2 linked regions of the Homo sapiens genome follow. The protein of the gene in region 1 interacts with the protein of each later gene in a pairwise test. Each region holds a gene or a part of one and is shown on either strand. Other genes may lie near its edges.

Evidence for each region. Proteins that work in one complex are often made in the same cells at the same time.
Region 2: the proteins of SLC35E3 (region 1) and TMEM234 interact in binary tests that used the Homo sapiens proteins (3 or more experiments, as listed by UniProt).

The regions. Positions count from the first base shown.
Region 1 is NC_000012.12:68,779,466-68,782,018, forward strand, and holds the end of SLC35E3 (solute carrier family 35 member E3), read left to right. Parts: 3' UTR 1-2,003; downstream 2,004-2,553. UniProt on the Homo sapiens protein: Putative transporter.
Region 2 is NC_000001.11:32,215,723-32,219,478, reverse strand, and holds the end of TMEM234 (transmembrane protein 234 isoform a precursor), read left to right. Parts: intron 1-1,901; exon of another isoform or gene 1,902-2,042; intron 2,043-2,127; coding exon 2,128-2,220; intron 2,221-2,354; coding exon of another isoform or gene 2,355-2,512; exon of another isoform or gene 2,513-2,531; coding exon 2,532-2,626; 3' UTR 2,627-2,961; coding exon of another isoform or gene 2,962-3,069; 3' UTR 3,070-3,279; downstream 3,280-3,756. Other genes in the region: DCDC2B (doublecortin domain-containing protein 2B), read right to left, coding at 3,582-3,677.

The DNA of each region.
Region 1 (2,553 bases):
CACTCCAGGTGATATTAAAAGTACAGTGCTAGGACTGTCTGACCCAAAATATGTGGCTGGAACCAGAAAGGATATAAGCATGGTTTGAGAAGGAAAAAAAGCTTAACAAGGGGGAATTGAGGAAGCCATTTGCAAAACTTCACAGGAAAGTTAAATGAATGAATGAATAAAATGTGATTAATAAATATGGGGGCCAGGTACAGTGGCCTGCATCTGTAATCCCAGTGTTTTGGGAGGCCAAGGCAGGAGGTGCACTTGAGGCCAGGAGTTCAAGACCTGAGCAACACAGCAAGACCCCCGTCTCTATAAAAAATTTTATAAAATTAGCCGGGCATGGTGGTAGACACCTGTAGTCCCAGCTACTTGGGAAGATGAGGCAGAGGATTGCCTGAGCCCAGGAGTTTGAGGTTATAGTGAGCCATGACTGTGCCACTGCACTCCAGCCTGGGCAACAAAGTGAGACCCTGACTCTAAAAGTAAAATTAAATTAAATTAAAAATAAGTGGATAAATATGGGTTATGCTGTGAAGCATAGAGGGAGGGATGAAGAGGGACATTTTAAGCCACTTCTCTGGCCCCAGTTTCTAACATTATTTCTAAAATGCAGGATATCTGGTTATCCCAAACCAGTTATATTTTTATTTAAATTTGCTCAAAATTTTTATTTTTAAATCTTAACAATTTCTAAAATCACACTTTTTAATTTATTTTGTATTTTTTTGAGACAGGGTCTTACTTTGTCACCCAGGCTGGAGTGCAGGGGCACAAACATGGCTCACTGCAGCCTCGACCTCCCAGCCTCAAGTGATACTCCCGCCTCAGCCTCCCAAGTAGCTGGGACTACAGGCATGCACCACCACACCTGGCTAATTTTTTTATATTTTGTTTGTAGAGATGGGGTTTCACCATGTTGCCCTGTCTAGTCTTGAAACCTTGAGCTCAAGAGATCTGCCCACCTTGGCCTCTCAAAGTGCTGGGATTACAGGCGTGAGCCGTCCTGCCTGGCCTAGTCACACTTTTTTTTTTTTTTTTTTTTTTGGAGACAGAGTTTCACTCTTGTTGCCCAGGCTGGAGTGCAATGGCATGATCTGGACTCACCGCAACCTCCGCCTCCTGGGTTCAAGCGATTCTCCTGCCTCAGCCACCCAAGTAGCTGGGATTATAGGCATGCACCACTATGCCCGGCTAATTTTGTATTTTTAGTAGAGACAGGGCTTCTCCATGATGGTCAGGCTGGTCTCGAACTCCTGACCTCAGGTGATCTGCCCGCCTCGGCCTCCCAGTGTTGGGATTATAGGCATGAGCCACCGCGCCCAGCTAGTCACGCTTTTTAGTCAAGATTTTTAAAAATGTCTGCATGCTTTTCTGAGAGCCTTACCTCTCTTGTGATTTGAAGCATTTTCTCCACCAGGCCTAAGGCTGAAGGAATGTAGTTTGCTGCCCTTCAGTCTATGACAAGGAGGTCTGTTTCCTCCAACGCCTGCCTTTTAGACAGAGTGTTGATTCACAGGGAACAGAGGCAGACCTGGGGCTGACACTGAATGAATGCTACTCACAGCAGTAAGGGGAAAAGTGGGAAAGTCTTGTTTATGCTGTGGCTGATGTGGATGTCTTTGGGGAAGAAAAATTCAGGATGAGTTTATTGAGAGCATTATTTTTGAAAGTATAAGATTTGTGATTGTAATATAAACTTAAATCACTTTGGGAATGAATTTAAAAAATCTATGTGACACAAATTAATCATCATTCTCATTGTAAATTTGGCAAAGTATTTGTAATTAGGAATATCTGTCATACTGGCACTGGGCAAATTATTCTGAATGTTCCCATGCTGAAGATTCTCTCAAAAAGGGAAAAAACAAGATCCTTTGTTTGTATAAGTACAATCAGTTTGCTGAATAAAACCTTTATAGCTACAATTATAACAGGATTGTTTCTACATTTTAGCTTGGAGATCCCATGACTACTCTGTTTTGCTAATAATAAACCAATACAGTGCTACAGAGATGTTTCTTTCATTAATGTGTTGCCTTCCCTTGCCTTGCCTTGCCTTGCCCTGCCTTGCCCTGCCTTGCCCTGCCTTGCCCTGTCTTGCCTTGCCTTGCCTTGCTTTCTTTTTTTGAGACAGGGTCTCACTCCATTGCCCAAAATGGGATGCAGTGGCATGATCTCGGTTCACTGCAATCTCTACCTCCCAGGCTCAAGTGATCCTGCCACCTCAACCTTCCAAGTAGCTGGGACCACAGGCATGCGCCACCATGCCAGGTTAATTTTTTGTATTTTTTTTTGGTAGAGATGGGGTTTCTCCATGTTGCCTAGGCTCATCTTGAACTCCTGAGCTCAGGCGATCTGCCTGCCTCGGCCTCCCAAAGTGCTGGGATTATAGGAGTGAATCACCGTACCCGGCCTCATTACTATGTTTTCTAAAGTTGTTTCATTCCTACCTTTCTCCTCGAAGCCCCTCAGCTTCAAATATTCAACAAACCATGATTCTGACCTCTATGCTTTCTTTATTCTCTTCGTAGCTCTGTGAGAGCAAAAAACTTACCTGTC
Region 2 (3,756 bases), on another chromosome or scaffold:
TGAGGCTGCAGTGAGCCTTGACCTCACCACTGCACTCCAGCCTGAGCAACAGAGAGAGACCCTGTCTCAAAACAACAACAACAAAAACGAAAAACAACCAAAAAAGAAAGCAGCTCTTTGTAAGTGGGGTTGTATCAATTTCTTAGATGGGTAATGCCTCCATGCTGGGGCCTCCCAGGGGATGAGGAGCAGGACAGTTTGCTCCTTTGCCTCACACAGGCGAGCCCTGGGAGTGCTGGGAAAGAATTTGCTGAGGAGCCAGTGTGAACATCTGGTCTGCAGTTGAGTCTTGTTACCATGGATAACTCAGCTGATTCGTCCATTGGTCTTTTTTATGTGTATGTGGTGCTTTTTTTTTTTTTTTTTGAGACGGCATTTCGCTCTTGTTGCCCAAGCTGGAGTGCAATGGTGCGATCTTGGCTCACTGCAACCTCCGCCTCCCAGGTTCAAGTGACTCTCCTTCCTTAGCCTCCCCACTAGCTGGGATTATGGGCATGTGCCACCACGCCTGGCTAATTTTGTTCTTTTGTTTTTGTTTTTTGAGATGGAGCCTTGCTGTGTCACCCAGGCTGGAGTGCAGTGGTGCAATCTCTGGTCACTGCAACCTCTGCCTACCAGGTTCAAGCAATTCTCCTGCCTCGGCCTCCCAAGTAGCTGGGACTACAGGCATGCACCACCATGCCTGGCTAATTTTTGTATTTTTAGTAGAGACGGGGTTTCACAATGTTGGCCAGGCTGGTCTTGAACTCCTGACCTCAAATGATCCACCCGCCTCGGCCTCCCAAAGTGCTGGGATTACAGGCGTGAGCCACCACACCCAGCCTAATTTTGTATTTTCAGTAGAGACGGGGTTTCTCCATGTTGGTCACGCTGGTCTCTAACTCCCAACCTCAGGTGATCCGCCCGTCTCAGCCTTCCAAAATGTTGGGATTACAGGCATGAGCCACTGCGCCTGGCTGTGGCTCTTTTTTTGATGTGATAAGAACACTTAACAGGAGATCTACCCTCAACAAATTTTAAGTTAACTCCATTAGTCTTTTTCTTTTTTTTTTGAGACAGAGTTTCACTCTTGTTTCTCAGGCTGGAGTACAGTGGTGTGATCTTGGCTCAGTGCAACCTCTGCCTCCTGGGTTCAAGCGATTCTCCTGTCTCAGCCTCCTGAGTAGCTGGGATTACAGGCGTCCGCCACTATGCCTGGCTAATTTTTGGTATTTTTAGTAGAGACGGGGTTTCACCATGTTGGCCAAGCTGGTCTTGAACTCCTGACCTCAGGTGATCCGCCCGCCTCAGCCTCCCAAAGTGCTGGGATTACAGGCGTGAGCCACCCTGCACCCAGCCAACTCCATTACTCTTTTTCAAGTTTGCTTATTGGCAGTCAGCCCCTTGGAACTTCAAAATTAAGGAACAGATCCTGGGCTATGATGCCCTCTACCCACACCACAGGTCCAGCCCAATGTCCTGAACAGGTCCTGCTCCTTCCTTCTGACACTTTTTATTTTTAACTCCATAAGGCCTGAGCTTGGGCTGAAACAGAAACAAAATGTGCTTCATCTGATGTTCTGCTCTGTCTATATCCACAGTTTAATAACGGCGCAGGCTTTGGAGTCAGGCAAGCCTTGGTTTAAATCCTCAACTTGCCTTAGTTTATGTGACTTCTTTGAGCCTTTGTTTCTTTTACGCAAAATGGTGATAATCCCCTTCTTGCAGTGTTGTGAAAACTGAGATATGTACACAAAGCACCTAGGCCATGGTATGTGCTTAATAAATGGTGGCTGTGCTTGGTGTTACCTGACTCTCTACTCATCCTTTGGGATTTGGGTGCCTGCCTGTCCGTCCAGATGTCCTTGAGATCTCACGAGTTCTCTTTGAGTGCAAAGACCTCATTCTCATTATCAAACCAGGCTGGTCCCAGACCTCAGAGTTCAGGTCTTCATGCTGGAATCCTGGGAAGCACTGAACGTGGAGTCAGGAGATGTGGGTTTGAGTCCTGAGATTTGCTGTGACTTCATCTGGAAGATGGGGTTTTGATACCTTTTTTAAAGGTATGAAATGATGATGATGGAAGTGTTTTGTGCCTAGAAAGGCATTTGTTGCATCTCAGGCATTCTTTTCATTCTGACCACCCAGATCTGACCCTGGCTGTGCCCATCTGTAACTCTCTGGCTATCATCTTCACACTGATTGTTGGGAAGGCCCTTGGAGAAGATATTGGTGGAAAACGTAAGTTAGACTACTGCGAGTGCGGGACGCAGCTCTGTGGATCTCGACATACCTGTGTTAGTTCCTTCCCAGAACCCATCTCCCCAGAGTGGGTGAGGACACGGCCTTTTCCCATCCTGCCCTTTCCTCTGCAGCTGTTTTGCTTCCTTGTGGCCATCAGAGTTCCCTTCCCCTGGACAGTCTGGAGAAAGACAGAGGCTGGGGTTTGGGATTGAAGACCAGACCCCATCTGAGCCCTTCCTCCAGCCCTGTACCAGCTCCTACTGGCATGGCTGAGCTCAGACCCTCCTGATTTCTGCCTATTATCCCAGGAGCAGTTGCTGGCATGGTGCTCACCGTGATAGGAATTTCACTCTGCATCACAAGCTCAGTGAGTAAGACCCAGGGGCAACAGTCTACCCTTTGAGTGGGCCGAACCCACTTCCAGCTCTGCTGCCTCCAGGAAGCCCCTGGGCCATGAAGTGCTGGCAGTGAGCGGATGGACCTAGCACTTCCCCTCTCTGGCCTTAGCTTCCTCCTCTCTTATGGGGATAACAGCTACCTCATGGATCACAATAAGAGAACAAGAGTGAAAGAGTTTTGTAACCTTCAAGTGCTGTTCAGCTGCGGGGATTTAGCACAGGAGACTCTACGCTCACCCTCAGCAACCTTTCTGCCCCAGCAGCTCTCTTCCTGCTAACATCTCAGGCTCCCAGCCCAGCCACCATTACTGTGGCCTGATCTGGACTATCATGGTGGCAGGTTCCATGGACTGCAGAACTCCAGCTGCATGGAAAGGGCCAGCTGCAGACTTTGAGCCAGAAATGCAAACGGGAGGCCTCTGGGACTCAGTCAGAGCGCTTTGGCTGAATGAGGGGTGGAACCGAGGGAAGAAGGTGCGTCGGAGTGGCAGATGCAGGAAATGAGCTGTCTATTAGCCTTGCCTGCCCCACCCATGAGGTAGGCAGAAATCCTCACTGCCAGCCCCTCTTAAACAGGTAGAGAGCTGTGAGCCCCAGCCCCACCTGACTCCAGCACACCTGGCGAGTAGTAGCTGTCAATAAATCTATGGTAAACAGACAAGAGGTTAGTAAGTATTCTTTTATTGTGACAAACCCTCTCCCAGGCTTAGTCAGCTACTCCTTTCTCTGGCCAGAGAATCCCATAAGGAAATAGCCCCCACAGCCAGGGCTGCTCTGCTCAGAGGAAGGGAAGGCTGGGCTGTGGGTTTAGGAGCAGGAGAACGGGGAGGGCTGAGGAGGCCGCAGTGTACCCTGTGAGCCCAGCGGAGGTGCTGGCTCCTGAGGAACAAGCTGCTGGAGGCTAAGGACAAAAGGTGGCCAGAGTAGTGGTCCCCAGTTGCCCTCTGGAGCTGCTGGCTCTCAAGATGGCAGAGCTGGGGCTGAGGCTGAGATAGCAGCCCCAGCCCCAGGCTGGTTTTCCAGGGACAAGGCCTCTTCCACTATCTGTGCTGCCCTCTGCAGGAGGTGGAAGGCCATACAGAATGGAGCCGTGAGTATGGCCAGCCTCCAGCTCTCAGCCAGGAGGTCCCCAACC